Homo sapiens: one gene and its partners. The protein of the gene in region 2 purifies or fractionates together with the protein of the main gene of each other region. This does not show direct contact. Each region holds a gene or a part of one and is shown on either strand. Other genes may lie near its edges.

Evidence for each region.
Region 1: the proteins of STAT5A (region 2) and PDK3 purify together in Homo sapiens (affinity purification with mass spectrometry; 2 studies listed by BioGRID and IntAct, with this or other methods). This does not show direct contact.
Region 3: the proteins of STAT5A (region 2) and KLHL7 purify together in Homo sapiens (affinity purification with mass spectrometry; 2 studies listed by BioGRID and IntAct, with this or other methods). This does not show direct contact.
Region 4: the proteins of STAT5A (region 2) and DLAT purify together in Homo sapiens (affinity purification with mass spectrometry; 2 studies listed by BioGRID and IntAct, with this or other methods). This does not show direct contact.
Region 5: the proteins of STAT5A (region 2) and SPICE1 purify together in Homo sapiens (affinity purification with mass spectrometry; one large-scale study listed by BioGRID and IntAct). This does not show direct contact.
Region 6: the proteins of STAT5A (region 2) and R3HDM2 purify together in Homo sapiens (affinity purification with mass spectrometry, with the first as the bait; one large-scale study listed by BioGRID). This does not show direct contact.
Region 7: the proteins of STAT5A (region 2) and PDHX purify together in Homo sapiens (affinity purification with mass spectrometry; 2 studies listed by BioGRID and IntAct, with this or other methods). This does not show direct contact.

What each region holds. Positions count from the first base shown.
Region 1 is NC_000023.11:24,530,806-24,535,352, reverse strand, and holds the end of PDK3 (pyruvate dehydrogenase kinase, isozyme 3 isoform 2 precursor), read right to left. Parts: intron 3,697-4,547; coding exon 3,583-3,696; intron 1,425-3,582; coding exon 1,281-1,424; 3' UTR 931-1,280; downstream 1-930. UniProt on the Homo sapiens protein: Inhibits pyruvate dehydrogenase activity by phosphorylation of the E1 subunit PDHA1, and thereby regulates glucose metabolism and aerobic respiration. Can also phosphorylate PDHA2.
Region 2 is NC_000017.11:42,297,797-42,302,206, reverse strand, and holds part of STAT5A (signal transducer and activator of transcription 5A), read right to left. Parts: intron 2,457-4,410; coding exon 2,326-2,456; intron 2,078-2,325; coding exon 1,926-2,077; intron 1,493-1,925; coding exon 1,337-1,492; intron 933-1,336; coding exon 753-932; intron 1-752. UniProt on the Homo sapiens protein: Carries out a dual function: signal transduction and activation of transcription. Mediates cellular responses to the cytokine KITLG/SCF and other growth factors. Mediates cellular responses to ERBB4.
Region 3 is NC_000007.14:23,108,588-23,112,997, reverse strand, and holds part of KLHL7 (kelch-like protein 7), read right to left. Parts: intron 1-4,410. UniProt on the Homo sapiens protein: Substrate-specific adapter of a BCR (BTB-CUL3-RBX1) E3 ubiquitin ligase complex. The BCR(KLHL7) complex acts by mediating ubiquitination and subsequent degradation of substrate proteins. Probably mediates 'Lys-48'-linked ubiquitination.
Region 4 is NC_000011.10:112,038,302-112,042,711, reverse strand, and holds part of DLAT (dihydrolipoyllysine-residue acetyltransferase component of pyruvate dehydrogenase complex, mitochondrial isoform 2 precursor), read right to left. Parts: intron 3,469-4,410; coding exon 3,315-3,468; intron 1-3,314.
Region 5 is NC_000003.12:113,504,247-113,508,656, reverse strand, and holds part of SPICE1 (spindle and centriole-associated protein 1), read left to right. Parts: intron 1-2,051; coding exon 2,052-2,150; intron 2,151-4,410.
Region 6 is NC_000012.12:57,423,907-57,428,316, forward strand, and holds part of R3HDM2 (R3H domain-containing protein 2), read right to left. Parts: intron 1-4,410.
Region 7 is NC_000011.10:34,989,426-34,993,835, reverse strand, and holds part of PDHX (pyruvate dehydrogenase protein X component, mitochondrial isoform 1 precursor), read right to left. Parts: intron 1,522-4,410; coding exon 1,457-1,521; intron 1-1,456.

The DNA of each region.
Region 1 (4,547 bases), on a different chromosome or scaffold from region 2:
TTGTATTTTTAGTAGAGACAGAGTTTCACCATATTGGCCTGGCTGGTCTCCAACTCCTGACTTCAAGTGATCCACCCACCTCGGCCTCTCAAAGTGCTGGGGTTACTGGCGTGAGCCACTGCGCCCAGCCAATGTTTTCTTATTTTTTATAATGCACATATACTGCTTTTTTGTTAATACAGGATTATTTTAAGTTAAATGAAGCAGAACCCCACTGTTGCTAGTAGAGTTGAAGCTTAAGGGTACATAGTCAGAAGAAAACTACAGATTATTTTCCTTATTACCATAAAACAGTGAAACTTGTTCTGTGATTGATAACTTTTCCTTTATAATGTTAACATTTTTTATTGTGATAAGCTATACATAACATAGAACTTACCACCTTTTTCTTATTTGAGACACGGTCTTATTCTGTCCCCCAGGCTGGTGTGCAGTGGTGCGAATCATAGCTCACTACAGCCTGGAAGTCCTGGGCTCAAGTGATCCTCCCGCCTCAGCTTCCTGAGTAGCTAGGACTACAGACCCACACCACCACACACGGCTAATTTTACCTTTTTAAATTTTTTGCTGAGACAGAGGTCTCACTATGTTGCCTAGGCTGGTCTTGAACTCCTGGCTTCAAGAGATCATCCAGCCTCAGCCTCCCAAAGTGTTGGGATTACAGGCGTGAGCCACCACACCCAGCCCAGAACTTACCATCTTAACCATTGCTACATGTACAGTTCAGTGGCATTGAGTACATTCACGCTGTTGTGCAAGCATCACCACCATCCATCTCCAGAAGTTTTTCATCTTTCCACCTGAAACTTTGTACCCATGAAACAATGCCTCCCCATTCCATCTTCGTCGCTAGCCCCTGGCAACCTCCCTTCCACTTTGTGTCTCTGCATTTGACTACTCTAGGTACTTCACATAAGTGGAATCATAGTATTTGTCCTTTTATGTCTGGTTTATTTCACTTAGCATAATGACTTCAAGATTCACCCATGTTGCAGCACATATCAGAATGTCCTTCCTTTTTAAGGCCAAATAATATTCCATTGGATGGATAGATCACCTTTTATCTTGATTGATCATTTTAACTTATTTTTCAGTTTCAACCTACAACGTTTATGAGGACAAACTGCAAACTTAATTGCTTTTTAAATAAAATTGATGGCAGGCCAAATCCCTGCTTGCTGTTGTGAATACCTCTACACTGCAAGAATTCCTGGAACAGTGAGTGGGACACCTTTATTCAGACAAATCAGATACTTTGTAATGGAAATCAAGGTGGTATATTACTGTTTTGCTTTGTATTTTGAAGCATCCCTGGGTTCACTGCTGGGATTGCTCCAATCATCGGCTTCAGGCGTGGTCTTGTAATGGCGCCATGCGGACTTATTAAAAACTGGAAGTCTCTCAAATGACTCACTTGAAAGAGCCTATTGGAGAAACAAAAATATACACCAAAGGTCGACAGTGTCATTTTTCTCAAGTGAAATAGTAACCCAAATTTTATTATTTAAAACATCAGAAACCTTAATACATATTTTCAAAATGATATTAAAATTACACCTTAGTAGTTTACTTAGACTGGCCAGGAAAACATTAAAGCTTTTTTAAAGGAATGAAAACATTTGCTCATTCAAAATCAGAACTGAAATACACATGACCAGAACAAAACATATTTTAATTCAGCTCATACTGCTTTGAGATGCTCAACTGTTTTGACTATACCTGGTGACTGGTCTCACAAAGGGCCCAGGAAGAGATACAGTCTCATGCATCCCAGGTTTATAAACACACACCATCAAGTATATTAAATATCGCATTACTTAGATGCATGGGCATCTAAGATAAATACTCCCAGTAACTGGTTAAATTCTGGTATCACATACATAGGTTGAGTATCCCTTTGAAATGCCTGGGAACAGGCCGGGCACAGTGGCTCACACCTGTAATCCCAGCACTTTGGGAGGCTGAGGCAGGTGGATCACCTGAGGTCAGGAGTTCGAGACCAGCCTGGCCAACATGGTGAAACCCTGTCTCTACTAAAAATACAAAAAATTAGCCGGGTGTGGTGGCTCACACCTGTAATCCCAGCTACTCAGGAGGCTGAGGCAGGAGCATGGCTTGAACCCAGGAGGCAGAGGTTGCAGTGAGCCGAGATGGCAGTACTGCACTCCAGCCTGGGTGACAGAGTGAGACTCTATCTCAAAAAAAAAAAAAAAGAAAAAGAAAGAAACAAAAAAAAAGAAAAGAAAGAAAGAAATGCTTGGGACCAGAAGTAGTTCTGATTTTTTCCGATTTTGGAATATTTGCATTGTGCTTACCTGTTAAGCATCCCTAATCTGAAAATCTGAAATCTGGGGTGCTCCAATAAGCATTTCCTTTAAGCTTGACCTTTGAGCAAGCATCACGTTGGCGCTCAAAAAGTTCCAGATTTTCAACCATTTTGGATTGCAGATTCTTGGGTTAGGGATGCTTGACCCACAGTGGCATGTTATGCCACTGTTTAAAAGAATGAGCCAGTTCTACATAAATGGATCTGGAAAGATCTCTAAGACAGATTGCAAAGTAAAAAAAATAAGAAGGTGCTGAAATTTCATTTATGTGGGAAAAATTCTATTTTTCCCATATTTATAAATGTAGAATCAACTCTAGGAGGATCCATAAGACGCTGAGACCGGTGGTGATCTTCGCTGAACAGAACTGGCGGTTTAGGGCCAGTGGGAGGAGAGACTTCATTTTTCCTTTTGTAGCTTTTAAATTTTTATTATGTGCCTATATTACCTATTCAAAAAAATGTTACAAATATTCTAGAGTTTAGAAATAAAAGCCCAATGATCACCAATGAATAAGAAAAACTGTGTTACAGAGAAGTTTGTTATTAAATGAATCTTTTACATAACCATATTATGATTACTGAATTCTTGTAGCTTTGGGAAAGCCAGTGAGTTTTTAAAACAAAAGACCAAAATACTTCAGTTTATGAAAATCTGCCTTCTTTTAGATCAGACCTTTCAATAGGCATGTAGTTTTTTAAGTCACAATTTAAAATTATGGTTTTAAAAATCAGTATTTTAATTTTTTTTTTTCTCTTTTGAGATGGAGTCTCATTCTGTCGCCCAGGCTGGAGTGCAGTGGCACCATCTTGGCTCACTGCAACCTCTGCCTCCCGGGTTCAAATGACTCTCCTGCCTCAGCCTCCTGAGTAGCTGGGACTACAGGCGTGCACCACCACATCAGCTAATTTTTTGTACTTTTAGTAGACATGGGGTTTCACCATGTTGGCCAGGCTGGTCTCGAACTCCTGACCTCAGGTGATCCACCCACCTCAGCCTCCCAAAGTCCTGAGATTACAGGCATGTGCCACCACGCCCGGCCAAAATCAGTATTTTAATTTCTATACCTCCACGTTTCATATTTTGCTTTATCTGAGCATAGAATCAAGCGTGAGGCATAACATGGTTTTCATGGGAAAATGAAGTAAATCTGAGATGAATCTAAGAGATGATACAGTGCTGTTCTCAATCAGCGATTAGAACTTACAGCTTTAAAAAGCAAAGATGCCTCATACTAACAAATAAAACGCAGTACCTTCAAATAAATGACAGCATCAGTACCCACTCCTTCCATGGAATACAGTTTCAGATCTCCTTGAAAATATCTAGCATACAGACGGGAAATTGGCAAACCATAACCAAATCCAGCCTATTGAGAAAAGAAAATTAATACAGTGAGACAGGCACAAATGCTAACACATTTTATATGATGACCATTCAGAGAAGGTTAAAATAAATTCTTGATTCAGATTTAAATCAAATAAATTACTGACTCAACCTTTACAATGATGTATATCCTCTTCTATGGCAAACAACCCCTTTATTTTCACCCTGCAAAAACATGTCTTATATGTTTGGATAATAATAGAAATATTCTAATTTTTGACTAATGCTTTTTTAGCATTTTAAAGCAAAATTTTATCATTTTTTTAAAAGCACATTCCAAGGCCGGGCACAGTGGCTCACGCCTGTAATCCCAGCACTTTGGGAGGCTGAGGCAGGTGGATCACTTGAGGTCAGGAATTCATGATCAGCCTGGCCAACATGGCGAAACCCCATCTCTACTACAAAAATTAGCTGGGCGAGGTGGTGGGAGACTGTAGTCCCAGCTACTCAGGAGGCTGAGGCAGGAGAATCGCCTGAACCCAGGAGGTGGAGGTTGCAGTGAGCTGAGATGGCGCCACTGCACTCCAGCCTGGGCGACAGAGCAAGACTCCATCTCCACACACACACACACACACACACACACACACACAAAAGCACATTCCAAATCAAGTGGAATGTGACCTGATGACAAAACTAAACCACATCATTTCAAAGTCCCATGATCAGATTTCCTTGCTTTTGCAAGTGAAAATCAATAGCGCAGTGCTGAGTACAAATCTACCAGTAACAAGACGAGAACATGGAAAGGAAAACAATTTTCTGAGAGGCAACTACTAAGGTTCCGGGAATGTGAGAATATTTTGGTATATTGTAGTTCAGGTATTTTTAGAGATT
Region 2 (4,410 bases):
TAGAACACAGCTACAACACCATACTTTGTGTGATTTTTTTGGAGACAGGGTCTCACCCTGTTGCCCAGGGTAGAGTGCCATGGCACAATCATACCTCACTGTAGTATCAAATTCCTAGGCTCAAATGATCCTACCACCTCAGCTTCCCGAGTAGCTGGGACTACAAGTGCGTGCACCACCATGCCCAGCTAATTTTAAAACTTTTTGTAGCGATGAGGGTCTCCCTATATTGTCCAACTCAAACTTTTGGGCTCAAGTGATCCTCCGACCGTGGCCTCCCAAAGTGCTGGGATTACAGGGGTAAGCCACGGCATCTAGCCTAGCACCAAGCTTGTTGCAGGGACAGGGAAGGCATCTGAGTAGGAGGAAGGCAGTGTACCATCTGTCCCAGATTTAATGATGGTTTGACATGATTGTTTGAATTTACAATGGTGTGAAGCAATACACTTTCAGGAGAAAGTGGTGTGATAGTCTCTCACAATGCTGGGCAGTGGCAGTGAGCCTCAGCTCTCCGGCAGCCACACCATCCCCAGGGTAAAGAACGGATACTCGGCTGGGTGTGGTGGCTCACGCCTATCAACTCAGCACTTTGGGAGGCTGAGGTGGGAAGACTGCATGAGTCCAGGAGTTCGAGACCAGCCTGGGCAACACGGTGAACTAGGGGACAAGACATAGCTGGATGCAAGGACAAAGCGGGGGGTGCAGGTCCCCCACACCTAAGCTTGGGCAGGGGAAGGGAGAGGCACAATTACTTGCGGGTGTTCTCATTTTTAAGCAGAGACTTGGCCTGCTGCTCACTGATGATGGTGGCCTTCACCTGGGGGGGATTCATGTGCACGTTCAGCTTCCCGCCCACCAGCAGGCGTACGGTGGCTGCAAACTTGGTCTGGGTCTTCAGGACCTGAGGAGGCTGCTTCTCAATGATGAATGTGCTGCATGGGACACAGGGACAGACACACGATGAGGGGTTGGCGCAGGGGAAAGGGCTCTCAGTCCCTCTGTGGTGGGGGTGGGGCTGCCTCCCATGGGGCTCAGGAGGTGATGAGCTCGGGCACAACCTCTGTTCCCGGGGAAGCTGTGAGAGTCCAGGGAGAGGATGGAGAGGGGAGTGAGATAACACAGCAGCTGGCATGGGCTGCGGCCCAGGGTATCTCTTGCAGTGTCCACAGGAGAAACTGGGCAAGGGCGGCACCTAGCAGCCACAGCAACTGGAGATGGAGTTGGGAGGGATGAGAGGCAGGAAGTGGATCTGCTGGTCTGGAAGGCACCTGCAGCTCCCCCCACGCAGGCAGGAGCTGCCCCAAGCTCCTGGGCATGGCAAACAGGCAGCAGTCACCTGGTCACCAGGGCTGAGATAATGTCCGTGATGGTGGCGTTGACCTCGGCCAGCATCTCCTCCACTGGGCCGGGGATGGGCAGCTGCTGGCAGAGGTGCTCAGCCCTGCGGATCTGCTGCCGGTTCTGCCAGATGATCTCGGCCAACTTCTCACACCTGCACGAGAGCCCCAAGGCCAACAGGAGGACAATGGCTTCTCCTCACAGACGCCAGGCCCCAAGACACAGCTCCCGTTCCCCCAGGAAGGCTCTGTGCTTTCGCCACACTTCCCACCCATGGGAAGAGCAGAGCTCCCTGCCTCCCAGAATTAGAGACGTACACAGGAGGGGCGACCCTGACTAGGCCCAAACAGCCCAAGCATCACCCCACACACCCGAGCCCCATCCCACCCCCAGGACAGCAGCCCCCTTCCTGGGGGAGGTGCACAGGATGGGGACCAAAGTCTGATTGAGGAACCAGGCTCCCTGGAGAAACAAGAGCTGTCCCAGGATGGAGGGGGCCTGCTGCAGGAGCCAGCACAGGACGCAGAAGCAGCCGGGGTCCCCACCAGCCCCTCCTGCCCTGCCCGCTGGCCGCCCCACACCATTACCAGGACTGTAGCACGTCCAGGCTGCCCTCGGGGGGCCCGCCGTTCCCGGCCAGCTGCTGCCGCCGCTTCCACTGGATCAGCTCGTCATCCAGGATGATGGTCTGCTGCTTCCGCAGCAGCTGCAGGGTCTTCTGGTGCTTCTCGGCCAGCTCCTGAGGGAAGGGAGGAGAGCAGCCCCTTCTGGGCTCCCAGAGAACACCGCAGGGCCTCGCTGGGAAATGGCAGGGCAGGGCCCAGGCCGTTCCCTCTCCCCAAGCTGCTCTGCCTCGCAAGGCCCCCAGGAAAAAAGGCCTCCTGCCCTCCCAGGTTCTGCTCTCATGCTGGTCCCAGCCCTCCCTCGGGTCCCCAGAGACTGACTTCATGGCACCCACGCCCAGGAGAGGCCCAGGACCCCACTCACCACGCGGTACTGCTGCAGTGTCTGTGCCTCACGCTGCAACCAGGCCTCCAGAGACACCTGCTTCTGCTGGAGGGCCGTCTCCCGGCTCAGACGCTCCTGGGGGCTCAGCTGGGCCAGCTGGGCAAACTGAGCTAGAGGAGAGAAGAGGAAACCATGACCATCACCTCCTAGTGTCCAACAGGAGGCCTAGAGAAGCCCACTCACCTGTTCTGGAGCGAGACCCTCCCAGGCTCAGACACTGCATCAAGAGCAAGTCGGGGTTCCTGACAGCCAGGGGGGCCAAGATGAATGGCGCCTCAGGAGGCGCCTCTGGGCCCTGCTCACCAGCCTCCTGACTCTGAGCCGTCCCCTCTGGGGGCACACGGGTGCTGGGGCAGCTGGGGAGGAGGCCTGCCTGCCTCCTGCCCGCCTGCCTCACAGGGCTGCCAGCCCTCTTCTCGCGTCCCAGCATGGGTCCAGGCTGTCTGGGGTGTAAGTGTGCCCATGCCCTTGACTGCAGGTGAACCTGGGCAAATCGCTTTCCTTTCCTGTGCCTCAGCTTCCCCACGTGTAAAACGGGAGATTCTCAGCACCTGCCTCAGTGGGGTGCTTGAAGATTAAATACATGAGGACATGGAAGATGCCAGAAAGCTGCCTGACATGGGTGAGCTCTGTGTGAGGTTCGTGCTTCTTGGTTAACGGGGAACAGGACAGAGAGAAGAGGTGACAGAGACAAGCAGCTGCTCGGCCCCATCCCTCCCGCAGCAAGGCCTCTTCAGGGAACCCCAGCCCCGGCGGCTCTGTCTCGTCCCTGAGCACAGCAGTCCCTCCTCAGGGGAGGATGAGATTCTTGAGGGGCTGGAAGGGGCCCAGCATGTTTGTCCAGGTGGGCTCACTGTGAGCCCAGCCGACCAACCAGGGGAGACAGACAGATAGACAGACCGCAGAGGGAGAGCGTGTCCAGGGCCACTGGGGATGCAGAGCCACCAAGATTCTCTCAGGAAAGGGAGGCCGAAGGGAGGCGGCTTCCCTCCACACCATCTGTGAGGAGTCTCATTGATGGCGGGACAGGGAATAAGTCAGGCCTCACTAGCTTTTAAAAAGTATCCATCATGGGGCTGGGCGCAGTGGCTCACGCCTGTAATCCCAGCACTTTGGGAGACTGAGGCGGGCAGATCACGAGGTCAGGTGATCGAGACCATCCTGGCTAGAGACCATCCTGGCTAACACAGTGAAACCCCATCTCTACTAAAAACACAAAAAATTAGCCGGGCATGGTGGCGGGTGCCTGTAGTTCCAGCTACTAGGGAGGCTGAGGCAGGAGAATGGCGTGAACCCAGAAGGTGGAGCTTGCAGTGAGCCGAGATTGGGCCACTGCACTCCAGCCTGGGCGACAGAGCTAGACTCTGTCTAAAAAAAAAAAAAAAAAAGTATCCATCATGTGCCAGGCTCGGTGGCTTACGCCTGTAATCCCAGCACTTTGGGAGGCTGAGACAGGCAGATCACTTGAGGTCAAGAGTTCGAGACCAGCCTGGCCAACATGGCAAGACCCTGTCTCTACTAAAAATACAAAAATTAGCTGGGCATGGTGGCGCATGCCTGTAATCCCAGCTACTTAGGAGGCTGAGGCAGGAGAATTGCTTGAACCCGGGGTTAAAGGTTGCAGTGAGCCGAGAGCACCACTGCACTCCAGCCAAGGCAACAGAGCAAGACTCCATCTCAAAAAAAAAAAAGTATCCATTATGAAATACGTAAGACACAGGGGATGTGGAACACAAGGGCGCCTGTGTATCAATAACCCAGGCTAAGAAAGTAAACATGTCCACAGTTACAACCACCACCGCAGGCCCACCCCACCCTCCCAGCGACAGCCCGTCTCCACCACACTGGGACTATTAATCCCTTCCCATCACCTTCTCAACAGCCCAGCGTCCTTGCTTGAGCTGAGTCAGAAGATGCGCGCACCAGCATGTCTTGGTCGAGCTCCTGGCTGGCCCCTGAGGGCCACGTCACTCTGACCCCAGCCCTGACCCATGGGATGCACAAGCTGGGACAGACAAAAGCAACTCTATGTAGCCAGGAACAGCCCAGAGCTAGAACTCAGAA
Region 3 (4,410 bases), on a different chromosome or scaffold from region 2:
TTTGCTTTGGATCTCATATCAGGAATTATCTATTAATTGCCCACTCTGTCTCATATATATCCAACCTCTACATCTCTTTTTCCCACTAGTTTTTAAAGACACCTATATCTTTCCCATTTAAACAAATAAAACCCAGCAACCTTCGTTTGACTCCCTCTCCCTTCAAGGCCAAATTTCTCAAAACAGCTGCCAGAATTTCCTCATATTCTACTCACTTCAGCTTACATTAATCTGATTCCCATTTGTCTGCCCATCAAAATAAGTCTTACTACAGTCAACAAACCACTCTGTGTTGCTATGTCCTACTATAAGTATTTTTAGTTTTAATCTTATTCTGATCTTTTACCAGCTTCAAAAGTTGCAGTCCTCCTGTGAATACAGTGCTTTAGACCATTTGGCCATCCTGACTTGCTGGGAAGGAGAAACAATTTCTTCCCAATTTTCGAAACTCTCATTTTTCTCCTATTCTTCTGGTGATTCCTTTGTTATCTCCTCCATAGGCCCATTTTCTATCCTTTATTCTGGACTCTGGACTCTTGACTCTTCACAGCTTCAATGAAGAAGTTATCTTCTATATGCAGATAATTCACAAATATATACATCTAACCCACAACTTTCCAGACCTGTCAATTTGTCATATATACTTCAGTGTCACAATGATATCACAAATTAAACACATCTAAAACACAAATTATAATCCTTTCCCCAATGCTTTGATCCTTTTCCAATACCTCCTTTCTCAGTGAATAGTGTCATCATCCATTTAGTTATGCATTCCAGAACCCTAGAGATCATAAGTGACACCTTATGCTGAATCCCTCAACATCCAATCATGTACCAGCATCACAATACAAATAGCTAACACTTACTGAGATGTTACTTGTTATCAGGTCGTATTTTAAGTTATCTTAATTTGGTTACCTAATTTAGTTATCACAACCACATATGGCAGTTATCATCACCAAGTCCTGTTGATTTTATTATCTTTTTAATCTATCACTTTTTCTTCATTGATGTTGCTTATGGCTGCCACTGTCATCACCTCAGTCCAAAGGACCATCATGTCTCACTGGACCACTACAGCTTCCTATTTGGTCTGCCAGCAAGCACTCTGAAAACTCTTTAATTCATTTACCACAAAGCAGTAAGTCTTTTTTTTTTTTTTTTTTTTTTTTTTGAGACGGAGTCTCACTCTGTCTCCAGGCTGGAGTGCAATGGTGCAATCTTGGCTCACCACAACCTCTGCCTCCCGGGTTCAACCAATTCTCCTGCCTCAGTCTTCTGAGTAGCTTGGACTACAGGCACGTGCGACTATGCCTGGCTAATTTTTTGTATTTTTAGTAAAGATGGAGTTTCACCATGTTAGCCAGACTGGTCTCAAACTCCTGACCTCAGGTGATCCACCTGTCTCAGCCTCCCAAAGTGCTGGGATTACATGTGTGAGCCATTGTGCCAGGCCAAGTCATCTTTTTTAAAGAAGAAAACATACCATCTCTACAAACATGCATGCACATGCACACAAACATGCATACACAGATTTTAGAATAAGGGCAAATCACCTAACTTGACTTATGAAGCTATGCATGGGCAGGTCTCTAGCTACTTCGCCAGTTTCATCTAGAACCATCGTCCGCCTTATGTTCTGTGCTCCAATTACACTGACCTTTAATCAGTCTCGAACTTGCCATTCTATAATAAAGTAGGTCTCCAACTCAGAGCCTCTGAATATGTTGTTCCCTCTACTTGAGTCACTCTTCCCTTTTCTCTTTACCTAGTTAACACCTACTCTTATTTCAGCTCTCAATGACCATTTCCTTAGAGAAAACTTCCTGATGGTCAAATTACCCACCCATATGCCCTCGTTGTACCATGTTATTCTCCTGTGTAATACCTACCACTGTTGCAATATTACATTTATTTGTGTGATTACTTGACTAATGTCTTGCTTTTCTACTAGCCTATAAACCACAAGAGGATTGGGACTGTCAGGGTTTGCTTATCATTGCAACCCCAGAATCTAGCAAAATGTTTAGCATACAGTGGGTTGTCAATAAGTATTCATTTCAATGAATGAACTTGGAAGCCAAATTGAACTAGAGTAATAAATAAATAGTAAGTAAGAAAATGTAGTGAACCGCATGTTCTCACTCATAGGTGGGACTTGAACAATGAGAACACACGGACACAGGAAGGGGAACATCACACTTTGGGGACTGTTGTGGGGTGGGGGGAGGGGGGAGGGATAGCATTAGGAGATATACCTAATACTAAATGACGAGTTAATGGGTGCAGCACACCAATATGGCACATGTATACATATGTAACAAACCTGCACATTGTGCACATGTACCCTAAAACTTAAAGTATAATAATAATAAAATTAAAAAAAAAACAAAAGAAAATGTAGTGAATTTACTCAGCTTTTCATCTTAATGGGGGGAGAGAAGTATTTAGAGGGGTATGTTGAGATTAAGAATGGGTTTGCTGGTTGTTTGGTTCAAAAGCTGGAGAGGTTAAAACAAGCTTAAGTGCTAATAGCAAGAATCCAGCAAAGAAGAAAAGTTAAAGATGCTCAACAAAGATGGAATAACCAACAGTATAATACTTCTGAGAAGCCCAGCATCCAGGAAGCCAAAGCCTAGGTAGAAGTACTGGCCTTAGAAAAAGCAGCAGCATCTCCATTGTAGCAGGATAAGAAGAGAAAAGGGAAAGTGTCAAAATAGGTTTATAGATCTGGTGGTAGAAAGTGAAAAGGTAGACAGTTCTAGACTAATGACTTCTATTTATCTATGGTGTCAAAAGAAGGTGATCTGCTGAAAGTGAGGATCTAGAGAAAGGACTCAGATTGGAGGAAAATAGTAAAACAAAAAGATTGCTCACGGGCACTGATAGTCTAGTGGAAATTAGTGGCCAAGCACTTACTTGGCAGAAGTTGCCCAGTGAGATATTTTCCAGCTGTGCTTGGAGCCTTGCACAAAGAAGGTAATCAGTCATCAATACTCAAGTTTGCCAGATGGACATGAAAAAGGGACAGAGGGTCAAGAAAACTGGGACACTGGAGAGACAGTGGAGTGACAATAGCTTCTAAGCTGGACAGACAGAAAAAGAAAACAGAAAACAGTAAAGTACAGGAAAAAGAATAAGAAGGTCTGGATGACTGGAATTGTCAATGAAAGTTAAGAGAATTAAATGAGACAAAGCATGTAAAACACTCTGCAGAGTGGCTGGAACAGTTATAAGTGCTCAAGAAGTCTTATTAATATCAAGGGTTTAACACTGAAGGTTTAGATTATTCACAAGAGAACCTAAAGATAATGACATGTAGTAATTTACAGTCAGACAGATGAGAATACAGAAGCAAAGTCATTTTAGCCGGAAGGTGAGCCCAGTTAACTGCCCAGTATCTAATTGTGAAATCAGCTTTGTAGTTCTCTCACATAACTCTCAATAAGGACTTTAACATAAGCTTTCAAGTTCCAGTTATGCTTTAATTCATTTAATGTGGAGAAACTATAAACTATGGTGGTACTCAGGAAGGTCTTAAAACATCTTCCTCCAATGTTAAGAGACTCCTGGACTTCATTAACACAAAAGAAGAGTATGGCAACAGCAATGTGCATGTGCAATAGTGACTGTGACCCAGACCTGCCTTGTAAAGCCTCTATTTTACATATCAGGTAATAACATTAATCTAAGCAAAAAGTTAAAGAAATAAATGAAAAGGTACTCAATCCAATTAAATAAGATGCTCCTATACACCCAGTTAGAATGGCTAAAGTGATAAGACTGACAACATCAAGTGATGGCAGGGATGCGGAGCAAAAACCTCTCTCACACACAACTGGCAGAAGCGTAACATGGTACAATCACTTTGGAAAACTACACGACGATATCTTTTAAAGCTGAAGGTGGTATAGCTTATGACTCAAAAATTCCTGTTTGGTATTTCCCAACACAAATATTAATACATACATATGCATACCAAAAGGCATGTACAAAGTGTACAAAAATGTTCAAAGTAGTACTAGTCTTAATAGTTCCAAACTAGAAATAACCCAAATGTTCATAATGATAGAATGGATAAATTGTGCTATATTCATTCAATGGGATACTATATACCACAAGGATGAAGTAGCGCTACACACAGCACAGATGAATCTCACAAACAATGTTGGCTTTAAGAAAACAAAACACAAGAGTTTATGCCATATGATTACATTTATATAAGTTCAAACACAGGAAAAACCCACTTTTTGCCGATGTGCTGCAGACTTTCATGAATGCACCACACACCAAAGACAGAACAAAGAGCTCCTCTTAATAACAGGGGTGCATAGTGCCCTTAGAAGATGGCATGGCATGGTATTTATCAATGGTTGCTTCTGCTCTAACTTCGATGGTTACAGAGTT
Region 4 (4,410 bases), on a different chromosome or scaffold from region 2:
TCCCTCCTCCCACCTACAGCCTCTTAGGTTTAATTTTGGACCCAAGTAGATAATCTTGACCTTTAATTCTACGGAGATTCAGAATTTAGTTATTATTATAGAATACCTTTTACACTGGCCCACTTCTAGGAAAAATTTGGTCAAACTGATTCATCTTCCCCCAAGGCAGACTTTAAAAAGGACTCTTGTTGTGTGTAGTTCTTCCCAATTCCTTTCCTTCATTACGAAAACTGAGTTGGCTAGGATTGTATTTATCCTCACTAGGAGCTCTAGAACAGAGGTGGTAGTACCCCTATTAGATTTCTCTCCTTTGTAAAAGACAGAAACCATAACCTCCCCTTACAACCAAGGCTGATCTAGACACCACAGTCCCTCAAGAGGAGGAAATCCATAGTACCACCTGCCTTATGCTAAGCTTCAGCCACCCACAAGAATTTCCTGACTTAGGAGTTAGTTGAAACCTTGTAAACCCTTTTCCCTATCTCTCTTGGGCGGCACAACAGGCCATCATAAAGCAATATGGTATAAAGGGAACAACACTGGACTATGGGTAACAAAAAGTAGGGATCTTGTCAAACATAAACTATATAAACGTTTCATCCATTTCCATGGAGCAACCAAAATGATCTTTTCAAAACATAATCATTTTATTTCACTTCTTTGCTTAAATTTCTCAATGGCTTCCTCAAGTACTTTAAATAAAATTCAAACTCTTTACCATAATCTATAAGGTCATTTATGTTCTCATCCCTGTTTTTTTCCAATCTCATCTCCTACTAGACCCTTTGCTCATTATGCTTCATTAACACTGGCCTTTTTTTTTTTTCTTTGAGACGGAGTCTTGCTCTGTCGCCCAGGCTGGAGTGCAGTGGCACTATCTCGGCTCACTGCAAGTTTGGCCTCCCAGGTTCACGCCATTCTCCTGCCTCAGCCTCCCGAGTAGCTGGGACCACAGGCGCCTGCCACCATGCCCAGCTAATTTTTTTGTATTTTTAGTAGAGACGAGGTTTCACCGTGTTAGCCAGGATGGTCTCCATCTCCTGACCTGTGATCCACCTGCCTCGGCCTCCCAAAGTGCTGGGATTACAGGCGTGAGCCATTGCGCCTGGCCAACACTGGCCTCTTTTATGTTCCTCAGACATGCTAAACTCTTTCCCATTTCAGACTGTGTACAGCTAGTCTCTCTATCCAAAATGATCTTTCCCCAGTTCTTCACATGGTTGGCTCAAGCTGCCTCCTTCTTATCTTTCAAAACAAATCAAATGTCACCTCATCAAAAAGATCTCCCAACCAACCTGTCTAAAAGTAGTCATGACTGCACATATATCCATTCACCCTTTCACTCACTAGTATATCACTGAGTTTCTTTCTTTCTTAGCACTCAAATCATCTTATTTAATAACAAAAATATTATTATCATTATAGCTAATACCTAGATATGCTTTCTCTGTACAGGCACTGGTTAACTTATTTAAACCTCACAACCATTAAACCTAATGTTTTTATATACAAAGAAATTGTGACACAAAAGGTCACACAGCTAGTATAAAGAGCTGAGGTTCATACCCAAGCATTCCAGCTACAGAGCTCACACTCTTAACTACTATGCTATACTCCCTTTCTGTTCATTTAATTCTTTATTGTTGGTCATATAAGCAACTGAAACTGAAATCTTATCCATCTGATGAACAAGTGTCTGATGTGTAGATAGCAGTCGATGATATTTATCACCTAACTCTGCCTGCATAGTAAGAACAGTGGGATTTTCTTTCTTTCTTTTTTTTTTTTAACACTCCTCTCAGCTCATACCTAAGGGATTTTCCACTTATATCTTTAGTAAGGTAACGAGTATTGCTGAATATCTAATAAATGGTCCTTCTTTGCTTGTCTAAATTCTTTAGATATAATTATTAACCCAGTCCTTTCTCCCTTTAAAAGTTACTCCAACTTACACTGCTGTCCCTGATTCTAATCATATATACATATATGATAGCAATATACTACTGAAATGGCATTAAGATGGAAAAAAAAGAATCTTCCAATATTACAAGAATCTCTGAGGTCCAAAAAATTTACAACATTCTACTCTTGTGTCTTGGGATTGGCTTGACTTCTAACTACAAGATAGCAAATTGCAGATACGGGATAACCACCATTGAGTACCCATAACTAGAAAATTGGGGAAATAAGCATATTTTTCTTTAGTAATTATGGATGGCAGAGCATCAAAACAGAAGGCAGGATAGGGTAGTGTGAAGAAACAGGCTTTAGAGTTAAACAAATCTAGAGTTACACTGCAACTTTACTATTTAACAGGAAGGAAGAACCCTGAAGAGTCTGAGAGTCTGTTTTCTTATCCAGAAAATAAGGAATGATAATTCTTACTTCAAGAAGTGTTGTGTACATTAAGTATGGTAAGTTAAATGACTGACACATAGTACAAGCCATCAAACCAAGTTCCAAGCATAATAACTTCCCCCCATTCCAAATAAGTACCTTAGTTATCCTACACTAAATTTTAGCTTAAGTTTAATTCAAAAAAACTTATTTAAGCACCAGGCAGTAATATCAATATGAATGACAACTAACATGTATTGAGTACTTATATGCTAGATACAGTTCTAAGCACTTCACCTGTTATAGCTCATTTAACTCTCACAATCTATACGATGTACAGTACCTCAGTTTTACAGATAGAAAAGTAATTGACATAAGGACATACAATCTAAGTAATTCACTGGAAAACATATTACATAGAAAATTATAAAGCCAGGATTAAATGCTAGGTGGTCTGATTCCAGGCCCCATGCTCTTATCACAAAGCTATATTTTTTCTTTGGCGGCAGACAGACAAGTAAGGCGTTTTCCCTTGCCTTCAGGGAGCTCTAGTTCTGTTTTATATGAATTTTATTAAGTCATTCCAAATCACCCCAACTTCAAATTTTATTTTGCTTTGCTTATTGCTACAGTCAACCAAGCACTAACAGAGGTTTCTTATTACATAATCAAGTCCCATAACCAAATTTTACATATACTTTCACCAAACAAGCAGTTTCCATGAATAGAAGAGGAAAAAAAAAGGTATCTAAAGTGTATGGGTAGATTCTAGGCAGAGTAAATAAAGCTCAGTAAAAGTTTCCCTACTCTGTGGTGGCAACAAAAGAACTATTTCTCCCTTCTGAAGGAATTATTAATGATTGTCCCTACTATCCCAATTATAAGTACGGCTATACATAGTTGTACTTGCAAGTCTTAAGGAGGAAATTCAACTAAATTTTAACTTTATAAAGTCCATTCTATAGAAACAGATTTACCTTTTACTTGTGTAAGATCAATCCCTTTCTCTACTGCCAACTTCTTTGCAAGAGGGCTAACAAACACCCTTCCCTTTGGTCCAGCAGGAGTAGCTGGGCAGGGTGCTGAAGGTGTAGGAGCTAAAGGCTGGGGAGTTGGAGGAACAGCGGCCACCTTTTGAAAAAAAATTACAAATTGTTTTAATTCACCACTTCAAAGACTGGTCTGAAAGATTAAAAGTTTACATCTTATTAATAAATTAAAACTATTTTAATTAAATATTAATAACTTTCATTTTTCCAAAGATCATAATGTACTTTTCGCCAGCTTAACCAACATAATGTAGTAATACGAACAGCGAGAACAATATACTTCTATATCAAAGACAGAACAGTTACCTTATTCCATAACAACATGAAGCACAGAATTGAATATTGCCAATCAGTGTATAGTATTCTACAGCCTTTCTTCACTTTAATCTCTTACCACTTCTTTATTCGCATTCTTTTACATCACCAACATGATTTTTATTTTTAATTATCCTAACTTCTTTTTTTTTTTTCTTTTTATTTGAGACAGAGTCTTGCTCTGTCACCCAGGCTGGAGTGCAGTGGCGCAAACTTGGCTCACTGCAACCTCCGCCTCCTGGGTTCAAGCAATTCTCCTGCCTCAGCCTCCCAAGTAGCTGGGATTAAAGGCACGCACCACCACGCCCAGCTAATTTTTTGTATTTTCAGTAGAGATGGGGTTTCACCATGTTGGCCAGGCTGGTCTTGAACTCCTGACCTCAAGCGATCCACCTGCCTCAGCCTCCCAAAGTGCTGGGATTACTGGCATGAGCCACCACACCCAGCCAGCTAATTTCAAAATATAAAATTATGCTGTAAGGCCCCATGTTGAAAAGTATCTTAAGAAATACGGCCAGGTGTGGTGGCTCACACCTGTAATCCCAGCACTTTGGGAGGCCGAGGTGGGTGGATCACCTGAGGTCAGGAGTTCGTGACCAGCCTGGCCAACACGGTGAAACCCCTTCTCTACTAAAAATAAAAAAATTAGCCGGGCATGGTGGCTAACACCTGTAATCCCAGCTACTCGGGAGGTCGAGGCAGGAGAATT
Region 5 (4,410 bases), on a different chromosome or scaffold from region 2:
GAGCAATATGTGAGGATTCTAGTTTTTCCATATTTTTGTCAGTGCTTGTTGTTGTCCGTCTTTTTGATTATAGCCATCCTAGTCGGTGTGAGGTGGTATCTTGATTGGCATTTCCCTAATGACTAATTATGTTGAACATCTTTTCATGTGTTTATTAGCTGTCTATAGTATCTTCCTTGGAGGAATGTCTATTCAAGTCCTATGCCCATTTTTAAATCGGATTTTTTAAATTGTCGAGTTGTAAAATTTCTTTATATAGTCTGGATTCAAGTCCTTTATCAGATAGAGGATTTGCAGATACTTTCTCCCATTCTATTGGTTGTCTTCATTTTCTTGATTGTGCCTTCGAAGCACAAAAATTCTTAATTTTGATTACGTCCAATTTATTTTTTTCTTTGGTTGCTTGTGCTTTTTGTGTCATTTCTAAGAAACCATTGCTTAACCCACGGCTCACGAAGATTTACTCTTATGTTTTCTTCTAAGAATTTTGTAGTTTTAGCTCTTATATTTAAATCCATGAATCAATTTAATTTTTGAATATGGTGTGAGGTAGGAGTCCAACTTCATTCTTTTTCATATGCGTATCCAGTTGTCCCAGCACCATCTGTTGAAAAGACTATTCTTTCCCCGTTGAATTGTCTTGGCACCCATGTTGAAAAACTGACCATAAATGTAAGGGTTTGTTTTAGACTCTTTGTTCTATTATATTCTGTATCTTTTTAAATGGTACTTATGGCTCTGCTACTTACTAATTGTGTGACCTTCATGGTTGGTTAACTTTTGTCTCTCAGTTTTCTCGTTTGTAAAATGAGGAATAAATAGTAAGTACCTCATGGGGTTATTGTGAGGATTCAAGAAAATAATGTTTAAAGAGCTTAGAATAGCATCTGGCTTATAGTAAGCACACGGTATCTGTTAGCTGATGCCATCATTACCACCGTGGCTATCATCATCATTACCATCATAAAACTTAAATGTTATTTTCTAACTTGTATGTGACTTGTTTTCTTTGGCTGAAATTGTAAATGCTGAAATTAGATACCATGTTTAAGGAGTGAATGTTCTTGTTAAGAGAGAGTACAGAGTGCAAGGAAGATTGAGGGCAAACTCTTAAGAAATACTTGTATTTAGACATTTTTATTATAGTAGACAATGATTTTTTTTTAAAAAAAAGTACTTAAGGAAAATACTAGAGTCCTTGTTTTAGACTAATTGGGAGTAAGGGGGTCAGCTGGAAAGTCCTGTAATTATTTAGGTAGGTTAAAAGTGTCTGCAATAGTAGTCATGTATATGTATTGCTTTTTAAAAGTCATATATATGTATTGTAAAATCCTGGTGTTCGGGGACTATGGGTCTTTTTCTAATTTGGTGTAATGTGTAGTCTAGTGTGCTTAGCATTGCTGTTTAAACAGTGGCAAACTAATGTTGGCAATTTAAAAATTCTAGTTTAAAATCAATAATTATTAATTTGTTTATCAGCAATAGAAAAAAATCAATAATTAGCACCATTTAGCATTATGTGACAGATATATTAGAAGTGATATCATACCTCATTTGTTCTCTAAAGTTTAGCTACTTTTATTTTCAAGTAAGCCCATATGTACCTGGTAGTGATTTTGAGTGTTAGAGTGCTTAAAAAAGAACTCCAACTCTCTTTTGCCCTTTCTTCCCTTCACCTTACATTCATATTGTTAGCTTGTGACTGGGCTATTTTCTACTAATTGTAAATTTGTGTAACTGATGACAAAGCTTATGACGAATGTCTTAGTTCTCGGCTTTAGGCCATAATTTCTGCATTCCTAGAGTTCTTTTTTAATCAAATATATAAGTTATTGACTTGAGACCTCTTTTATTATAATTATCAGTACCAACATTTATTAGTTGTAAAATAAAAGAACTAAGTATTTTGATAGGCTGTTCCTTTCATCATGCTTAAATTTTTCTTCTGGCATTTTAAAATTTGTTTTTTTTTTCAGGTGTCTTCCCCCACTCTGGTGATGCTTATTGTTTTTTCTTGTATTTTAAAAATTTGATGTGATTATTATTCCTAGATGTCATTTGTCAGAGTGAACCGCTGTGGTCCCCGAGTTGGTGTAAGAAAGACACCGAAAGTAAAGAAGAAGAAAACTTCAGTGAAACAAGAATGGGATGTGAGTATAGGTGGGATAGTAAATAATGTAACATTACTCTGGAGAAATGGACACAGTGATATGGCCCTAGTCATGCAAGATGGTGTTCTGAATGGGGCTCATCACGTAATAGGGTGGAATAGGTTTCTGGGCATGTGATATTCTAGGTCTTGGAGGGAAAAGCAGAATCCTTTGGGGGAGGTTTTTAGAATACACACATCCAGGCTGTAACCTCTATATCCTCTGAAGAATTGGAATCCTAAGGGGATGGGGAGCATATTTTAAAAAACGTCTTTTCACTTTGACTCTGAGAACTCACTGCATAAAGGCAACTCTAGCTCACTGGTGTCAATGAAGTCTGTGAATTTTTCGGTACCTTTTTTAGGTTTGCTCAGAGCAACCAGTGATATCATAACCATGTGAGTGCCAGTTTTGGCTGAAAAAAATAGGTGACCTTTGCTCTCTTATCCCATGAATTGCTCAATTCCAGAGGTTGATCGGTTTCAGAACAAATGTTCTCTTGTGGTATAAGACAAGGCTGAAGTACCTGTAACATGTGATGTATGGCTCCTAACCTGAATATTGCCTGGTGTTACCAAGGGGATTTATATCTTTTTTTTAAGAGACAGGGTCATGTCCTGTCACCCAGGCTGGAGTGATGTGATGCCATCATAGCTCACTGCAGCCTTAAACTCCTGGACTCCAGCAATCCTCCTGCCTTAGCCTCCTGAGTAGCTAGGACCAGAGGCATGCACCACCACCCCTGGCTAACTTAAAAAAAATATTTTTTGTAGAGACAGGTCCTTGCTGTGTTGCCCAGGTTGGTCTTAAACTCCTAGCCTCAAGCGATCCTCGTGCCTTCGCTTCCCAAAGTGCTGGGATTATAGGCGAGCCATTGCACCCAGCTAGATTTCTCTTTTGTGACCTGATACTTTGGTTTGGACCATGAGACTTTAGGTGTCTTTACTTTCCATTGTGAAGAGTAACTAGTTAGGGATTAGTTTGGATCTCAGGGATTCTTTTGGACTTGGAATCTTCTTGTTTGCAACCTACCATGTTAGCCAGATATCCTGGGCAAACTGACAGCCTTTGAAGTGGGGCAGCGGGACTTCTCTGTGTTTAGATTGTTTTGTTGCTGTCTGATTGGCTATAAAATTTTAATAACAAGGATGTGACTCTAAGGTAAGGAAACTGATAAATCGGAAAAAAAAAATATGTGATAACATATTTTCCCCTTCAGAGTGGTTACTTTGAGAAGTTTAGTACAGTTGACCTTTGAACAACATGAGTTTGAGCTGCACGGGTTCATTTACGCATGAATTTTTTTTCAATAAATACAGTTGGCTGTATCCTGGGGTTCCACCTCTACAACGAAAGGTGGATTGAAAATACAGTGTTTTCAGGATGTAAAACCCAGATATGGAGAGCCAATTAGGTGGGATTTGAGTATGTGTGGATTTTGGTATATGTGGGTGTCCTGGATACTGTGGGATGACTGCATTTATTCCAATATGCCACTATTGCTTAAAACTTAATTGAAATCTATCATTTGAAATTGCATTAAGAACCTTCCTCATTTTATCTGCAGTGCTGGAAAAATCTTTTGTTTTTTGAAGGTAGACTGAACTTGGAAAATAGTCATAAGTCATTTGGAGTAAATGGTAAATGATGGAGAAGAGATCAAACTGATTATTACTGTCTTGATAAAAATAGTGAAACATTTTCTGAAATGGCTTGTAGATTAGATTTAAATGGAATGTCAAAAGAAAATGGTTTTAAGCAATGGTTTTAGTATTGATGGAATTATTATTTTCTTCCATGAGAACAAATTTCAAGCCTATCACTTACTTGTATGCCTGAGTTTTTAAATGCCTATTAAAAACAATTCTCATGATCCTGTAGTTGTACCTTGTACCTTTCTTTTCCTTTTCCCTTTTTTTTTTTTTTTTTTTTTTTGAGACAAGGTCTTGCTATGTTGCCCAGGCTGGCCTCAGACTCCTGGGCTCATGATGAGATCTTCCTGCCTCGGCCTCCTGAACCTCCTGGGTAGCTGAGACTACAAGCGCACACCACCATGCCTGGCTCTTGTACCTTTCTAAATCATTGTAAAAGTAATAACAGTTTTCATACAGAAAAGCCTTGAGCCAAATATAAATCATGGCCAAAAAGTTTAGTCTTTGATCAGAAGCCATTTTTGACTGTTCGTATTCCTCGTCACTTAGAAGTAAAACTAACTTGTTTTATTTCCTGCCTTACCAAATCTGTGTAGCAAAATGGCTGA
Region 6 (4,410 bases), on a different chromosome or scaffold from region 2:
GAGTTCGAGGCCAGCCTGACCAACATGGAGAAAACCCATCTCTACTAAAAATACAAAATTAGCCAGGTGTGGTGGCACATGCCTGTAATCCCAGCTACTTGGGAGGCTGAGGCAGGAGAATCGCTTGGACCCAGGAGTCGGAGGTTGCGGTGAGCCAAGATCGCGCCATTGCACTCCAGCCTGGGCAACAAGAGCAAAACTCTGTCTCAAAAAAAAAAAAAAAAAAAAAAAAAGGAACAAAGAAACTGTAAGTGAACACTTCTCATGGGTATACATTCACCTGCTACAGTGCTACAGGCTGGAGTACAGTGGCGTGATCTCAATCACTGCAACTTCCGCCTTCCAGGTTCAAGCAATTCTCGTGCCTCAGCCTCCCGAGTAGCTGGGATTACAGGCATGTGATACCATAACACCCAGCTAAGGTCTTGTATTTTTAGCAGAGATGGGGTTTCATTATGTTAGCCAGGCTGGTCTTGAACTCCTGACCTCAAGTGACCCACCCGCCTCAGCCTCCCAAAGTGCTGGAATTACAGGCGTGAGCCACCACACCTGACCATATATTTCAAATGTACCTACCATTAAATTTGGATTGTCACTGCCTTAATTACTTTCCTCCTAGTCTTCTGTTATTAATCCTGTAAGCTTTCACAAGTCTGACCCACCCTTTTCCAAGACACCAAGGATTTCTTGATGCCCATACTGTTCCTCATAAACAAAAACCATAAATTCTTACAATTGTCATACGCAACAAAGACACAGGCCCAACAAAAATATGAACTGTATTTTTTGAAAACCTAGCCTTTTTGGGGTTTTTAAGAGACAGGCTCTCATTCTGTCACCCAGGCCAGAGTATGGTGGCACAATCATAGCTCACTGCAGCTGCAAACTTCTGGGCTCAAGCAATCCTCCCGCCTCAGATTCCCAAAGTGCTGCACTACAGGTATGAACCACCAAGCCAAGCCTATACAATATTTTTAATAACGGTGCACGTAAAACAAAGTTTTGACTGTAATTTGTCACATGAGCCTGGGCAACAAAGTGAGACTCCGTCTCAAAAAAATAAATAAATAAAAAGAAATTATTCAGTCAGGTGCGGTGGCTCACGCCTATAATCCCAGCACTTCAGGAGGCTGAGGTGGGTGGATCACCTGAGCTCGGGAGTTCGAGACCAGCCTGACCAACATGGAGAAACCCTGCCTCTACTAAAAATACAAAATTAGCCAGGTGTGGTGGCGCATGCCTGTAATCCCAGCTACTGGGGAGGCTGAGGCAGGAGAATCACTTGAACCCAGGAGGTGGAAGTTGCGGTGAGCCGAGATCGTGCCATTGCACTCCAACCTGGGCAACAAGAGCGAAACTCCGTCTCAAAAAAAAAAAAAAATTATTCACAAAATGAGAACTACTAATATAATTCTAGAAGATGCAGTTATTTCTTTATACTAATAATATCAGAACTATGTCCAGACAAATGCATAGCAGATCCCCAATTCTTGCACCTCCCATTAACTGTTCTCTCCTAGGCCTGGCAGCTTTCAATGTCCTCGCAAAGGTTTAAGCAAAAGCCTTAGCTTTGCCACTAGCATTCCTACAAAGTGTTAAAAGCACACTTCAGGCCGGGCGTAGCAGCTCACAACTGTAATCCCAGCACTTTGGGAGGCCGAGGCAGGCGAATCACCTGAGGTCAGGAGTCCAAGACCAGCCTGGCCAACATGGTGAAACCCTGTCTCTACAAAAAAACAAAAATTAGCCGGGCATGATGGCGGGTGGCTATAATCCAGCTAGTTGGGAGGTTGAGGCAGAAGAATCGCTTGAACCTGGGAGGCGGAGGTGGTAGTGAGCTGAAATCAGGACACTGCACTCCAGCCTGGGAGACACAGCAAGACTCTCTCAAAACGAAAAACGCACACTTCACTCCCTTTGCCTTCCTGAGCTAAAGAAGAGTAGCCAAACCGCCCCAAAGAGAAATCTCATCCAGGTTACTCTAGCCGGAAGATCAATGGAGGTAACTAATGTACCAACCAAGAAACTAAGGAAAGATAGGTCAGGCGCGGTGGCTCATGCCTGTAATCCCAGCACTTCGGGAGGCCGAGGCGGGCAGATCACCTGAGGTTAGGAGTTCGAGAGTGGCCTGGCCAACATGACAGAACCCTGTATCTACTAAAAATACAAAAATTATCCAGGCGTGGTAGCCGATGCCTGTAATCCCAGCTACTTGGGAGGCTGAGGTAGGAGAATCCCTTGAATCCAGGAGGCAGAGGTTGCAGTGAGCCAAGATCACACCATTGCACTCCAGCTTGGGCGACAGAGCGAGACTCCATCTCAAAAAAATAAATTAATTAATTAATTAAGGAAAGATAAAATGAGGGATAACCCACAGAATTTAGGGTGCCTGCTCCTTTTTATCCTCAAACTTAGCATAGATTTAGTTGCTAAAAATGCCCCCCAAAATCAATCTGTGAAAAAAGGATCAAGTGTTCTCTAGAACTGAACATTCTACCATTGTTAGAGAAACCTATTCTTAAAGTTTTTAAGCTCAACTGTCTCTACATGAATTGGTGGGGTTGAGGGTAGGAACTAGCCCATAAAGACAGAACTATAAATATTAACATCTTCAGGCTACTGAAAACTCAAAGTGGAACCAGCCTGCTCAGCTAGGTAGGGTCAGAGAAGTAACGAGTGATATTTGTCTTGGAAGGGACATGAACAAACCTCAAGGGAAGAGCATGAAGTAGGTAAAAATTCTAGCCACAATAAATCTGAGATAAGACTACCAATACCAAAGACTTCCACACTCCATCCTCTTCTCTGCCCTCAGAGTATTTTCATTCAATGGCCCCAAAGCACGAGATGTTTGTCCAAAGAGAAACATCCCCAGAAAAAACATCTCAACATCTCTCAATGAGTACCTTAGAAAACCAGGTTTTCCTAGTGAAAACCCATCCCACCCTTCCAAGGACAACTAATCACGATGAAAAATTCATGGAAAGAGTTCAAGGAAAAAACTCCTCCTTACCTACTCAGTCAATAAATCTGTTGTGCACTTTACTGAACATCAAGTGCTGTGCTAAGTGCTGAGGATACGGAAATTAATAAAACAAAAATGTGGCTGGGCACAGAGGCTCACGCCTACAATCCCAGCACTTTGGGAGGCCGAGGCAGGAGGATCACCAGGTCAGGAGTTCAAGACCAGCCTGACCAACACGGTGAAACACCATCTCTACTAAAAATACAAAAATTAGTTGGACGTGGTGGCGCGTGCCTGTAATCCTAGCTACTCAGGAGGCTGAGGCAGGACAATCACTTGAACCCGGGAGGTGGAGGTTGCAGTGAGCTGACATCGTGCCACTGCACTCCAGCCTGGGCGACAGACAGAGGTTCTGTCTCAAAAAAAATAAATAAATAATAATAAAATAAAATAAATAAAACAAAAATGCCTGCTCTCCTGAAGCTTTTTTTTTTTTGAGACAAAGTCTCAGTCTGTTGCCCAGGCTGGAGTGCAGTGGCACGATCTCAGCTCACTGCAACCTCAGCCTCCCAGGTTCAAGCCACTCTCCTGCCTCAGCCTCCCAAGTAGCTGGGACTACAGGCGTGTACCACCACACCCAGCTAATTTTTGTATTTTTAGTAGAGATGGGGTTTCACCATGTTGGCCAGGCTGGTCTCGAACTTCTAACCTCTGGTGATGCCCCGTCCTTGGCCTCCCAAAGTGCTGGGACTATAGGTGTGAGCCACTGCGCCTGGCCCTGAAGCTTTCTACTAGGGGAGATTAAAATATATAATACGTTATAGGTTGATAAGGGTTAAGGCAGAAAATAAAGCAGAAAAGGGGGATAGAGAGTTATGTAAATGTGTATGCAGGAGGGGCTTTGCCATCCAGATAGCCAAGGGAATATCAGTGTTAAGAGTGACATTTGGGCCAGGCGCAGTGGCTCACACCTGTAATCCCTACACTTTGGGATTACACTTTGGGAGGTGGAGGTGGGTGGATCACTTAGGGTCAGGAGTTGAAGACCAGCCTGGCCAACATATAGTGAAACCCTGTGTGTACTAAAAATACAAAAAAATTAGCCAGGCATGGTGGCAGGCACCTGTAATCCCAGCTACTCAGGGGGCTGAGGCAGGAGAATCGCTTGAACCCAGGAGGTAGAGGTTGCAGTGAGCCGAGATCATGCCACTGCACTCCAGCCTGGGTGACAGAGCGAGACTCCATCTCAAAAAAAAAAAAGAGTGAAATTTGAGTAAAGACCTGAAGGAGATGAGGGGACAGACAGGCTATGCTCTTACACAGCTTTGTAAGAGAAAAGTAACTCAGGAAGAGGAAACAAGAGCATAGACCCTGAGGCAGAAGTGTGCCTAGTGTGCTCAAGGAACAGCCAGAGGCCAGTGTGCATGTTAGGGGAAAAGGGTGCC
Region 7 (4,410 bases), on a different chromosome or scaffold from region 2:
AATTCTCAAATCATCAAAAGACTTAATGCAATCCCAATCAAGAAACCAGCAAGGGGTGTGTGTGTGAAAAATGGCAAATCAATTTTACAATTTATTTGGAAATACGAAAAGCCAGAAGACAATCTTGAGGGTGAACAAAATTGGAAGACTTCATTACCAGCTATCAAGAGTTATAGCTTGGTGGTAGTAAACAAAGGATAGACAAACAGGCCAGTGGAAAAAAAATAGCACAGAACTAGACCAACACATATATAATCACCTTTTCAATGCTATGAAAAAGGAGAAATCAATATTCAATACATGATGCTGTGTAAATTTAGTATCCATATGGGGAAAAAAGAGCACTTGAAACTTCACATTATATACAAAATCCAATTTCAGTTGAATTGTGATCTACATGTGAAAAGTAACGTAAATGCTTTTAGAAGATAACACAGAAGAGTAACTTCATGACTCTGAGATAGGCAAAAATTCCTAACAGAAAATGAACAGTACCAACTACAAAGAAAAATACTGATAAATAGGAATTCATTAAAACTCAGAACTTCCGTTCATTTAAAAAAATCACCGAGAGAGTCCCAAAGGCAAGTCACAGAGTGTGAAAGCTATTTGAAACAATATATATCCTATAAAGGTCTGTATATCCAGAAATAAGAACTATACATCATTTTTTTAAATGGACACCAGATTGCAGTGGGTACTTTATCTCATGAATTACCAGATACCCAAACGGCTGATGAGTGAAAAGTACTCAACATCACTAATTTGCATTTTCCTACAAAGAGTACCACTACACACCCCAAGAATTGTTAAAATTTAAAACCTAACATTATTAAATAGTGGCAAGAATGTGGAGCAATGGGAATTCTCAGGACCGTTGGTGGAGGTGTAAATTTGTATAACCATTTGGAAAATTGTTTGGTAGTAGCTGCTAAAGCTTCTAACTTAGGAATTCTACTTTTAGGTCTATACAACAAAAAATGTACATACATTCACTATAAGACACTAATAAGAATGTTCATAGCACCATAATTTGTAATAGCCCCGAACTGGAAGCAACGCAAATGCCCACCAACAGTAAAATGAATTCTGGTATATTTATACAATAGAATATTATATGCTGCAATAATAAATAAGTGGTTGTTTCACATAGCAATATAATATTACAGACATTAATATTGGGGGTGGGTCAGATACTAAAGAATACATAATATTTATCATTCCATGTTAGTCAATGTCCAACGAACGTTTAGTTCAACACTAATAGGTTCCTACTAGCTTTAATATGAAAGCCTGACTAGTCTGAAGAATTTTTTCAGATATTCTATTGTCTAAATAAAGTATTTTTAGCTTAAATTTTAAAAAATATTTCAGATAAATGAAAGGCTGACAGGGACTTTATAAGTCTTACATCTATCTGTTTGATGCTATGGATAATTAAGAGTTTAAATTTTACCTAAAAGATCCTCCTTGGTATTCTTCAGGCAACAATTTTCCATCTCTTGCTTTCTTTGATAGAGCCTGAGAAAAATACAAACAGAATAGGACAACCAACAAAATGTTATACAGTTGATCTTGTCACTTGAAATATTTGTACATCATATACTCTCATCTCTGATATGCCTTGATTTGATTTTGTTACCTATATAAAAATAATTTTCTCTAATTATAAGAACAAACAAGAGCACAGATAATTCAAGAAACTAAAGCTGTTAATCAAAACTCTAGAAAAATCACTTCCTTTAACAATTTTTCAAATGTGGGAATTACCCTGTGTACCATCAATTATTATGCAAAATGCTTTAGAGTTTCCTATATGCAAAATGAAATTTTCTATTTTGCCTATAAAACTTTATGGTAAGAAAAAAAATACAAGAATCCATTCTGGTCAATCTAGTGTTTTTTAGTTTTTTTTTTTTTTTTTTTTTTGAGAAGTCTCACTCTGTTGCCCTGGCTGGAGTGCAGTGGTGTGATTATGGCCTATTGCAACCTCCATCTCCCAGGTTCAAGCAATTCTCTTGCCTCAGCGTCCTGAGTAGCTGAGATTTCAGGCACCCACCGCCACGCCCAGCTAATTTTTTATATTTTTAGTAGAGATGGGGTTTCACCATGTTGGTCAGGCTGGTCTCCAACTCCTGAACTCAAGTGATCCACCCACCTCGGCCTCCCAAAGTGGTGGGATTACAGGTATGAGCCACCATGCCTGGCCAATCTGTGTGTTTTAAATAAATTATCCAATGGCAACCAAAGTAGTATACCCACAATCCCACAACCAACATTCCGTTTTTATCTTTCAGAGTTTGCTTCATCTTTATCCACAATCTCAACCCCACACAATGGTTATAAAAAATAAATTTTATATTTAATTGTTCAATATTATATGTATCTTCTGTGTTGTCAGCCTTCAGAAATGATTTTTTAATGTTTGTTCCTAAAGACTGCACCTGCCTAATTTACTTGGTTATTTCCCAGTGTTATAATTTGGTTCACGGTTTCTTCTGAATTATTTCAGGTAAATTTTCAGAAGTGGAATTATAGTGCCCTAGAGAATAGACTTCTTTTGGTTCTTGATCCTATAGCTAAATCATTTCCTGAATGAGCTAGTCCAATTTACACTGCCACAAGGAATATAAGGATGTACTTGATTCATATCACTCTTGACCACAGCGATTTCTAAAAATCTTACAGAAGACAAGACAGATGACATATTAGTTAAATTTTCCTCTCACTTGTACTTGGAATTAACCACATTTCTGTTAATTTTTATTTTTCAGTGCTTAAAAGCAAGGGAACAGAGGTTGAGTCATCATATATAAAAAATTAATAACGAATTAACTTAAGAGGAAGGGTACAGAAAAATGAGGTCACTGTCATTTGGGTAGATAAAATAAATGTGGAATTTACTTAATATTTTGTATTACATAGGCAACATAGGCACTATTACAATCACAGTTGATAACTAACTTTAATTCATAGATGATTTAATTTTTTAAAATTGAAAGTCTTTAAAAATATCAAAAATCTAAAAACACATTACTGTAACGTACTGCCAACAGAAACAATTACAGGTGTATGCTATTTGGATGTGGTTATTTATAAAACTATTTGGATTCAAGGTAAAAAATGAGATGAATTTTGACTTATACAGTTCTTGGAATAACGGGAGAGAGAATAATCTATAAAAGCATTTTTCCTCCCTTAAGCAATGTAATTGTTCACATGATTTGAAAAGACACATATATGAACTTTAAAAGGCATTTTTTAAAGGCAGATGATCTCAACATATCCTGATGAACTACCACACAATTACCACAAATGAAAAAAACTCACTTTAATAAGTAGATTGCACGCACACATACTAAAAACAAAAACTCTGTAGATCCTAAATACATCAACAGGAAATTCCTGTCAGTGAACTCTAGTAAGTCTGAAATAGGTATGGAATCTGAGAAGGATCGTTGGTTTTATAAATTTGTAATCATCACTGGGATCTCCTGGCAATGTGGACTCAAAATCAAAGTACATGTTACCTGAAGCATCCAGCTGAAAGAATAAAAAATGACCACTAAATATTTCTACAATACATCGAATGCCTTGCTATTCATTAAAAAAATTTACTGGGTACTTATAAGGTAAACTATGCCTCTGCCTTTTAATACTGTTATAAGTAATGAAGAATTAAGAATAACACAGGATCCAAGGTGTGTCACTACATTACTTTATTCAAGGAATACCAACTTGAACTTGGCTGGGGTATGCCTACAGCCCCCACAGTGGCATCCTTGGGATTACAGAGGGTCAAGAAGTAAATGCGTAGTACAGATATTCTTAACTTGGGGTTCATGGATGAATCTGCAGAGAGCCACAAACTCTTGAAAAATTAATTTCAATGAAACAAGTTTTACTGAAATTTGTTTTAAAATAAATTCACCAAGCAACTACTGTATCCCAAGCACTCTTCTAGAATTAGATAAATGGCAATGGACAGTGAACATCAGACAGTAGGGAACACAGAAGGGTGAACAAATAAATAAACAAGGTAATTTCAAAGACTAATAAACCATATGAAGACAATAAAACAGGGTAATGAGATAAAGAGTGTTAGGAAACTATTTCAGCTACAGAAGCTGCAGAAGGCCTAAGAAATTAGCAACTGAACTGAGAAACCAATGATGAAAAAAAGCCAGCCAAGTGACGATCAGAGGGAAGTGTGTACTGGATAGTATGTCTCTTAGTGAGAATCCAGAGCTCAACCTGTCCATGATCCCACAGTCTTTTCAAAAAGACTACTCCTGCCTCACCAGGTAGAGAGCCTTGGTTTCTTTGCTGCAGGTTCTCTTATCCACTGCCTACTTGCTAAGACCACAACCTCACATTCCTCGGGGAATCTTCACTGCTTCTTTGGCAGAG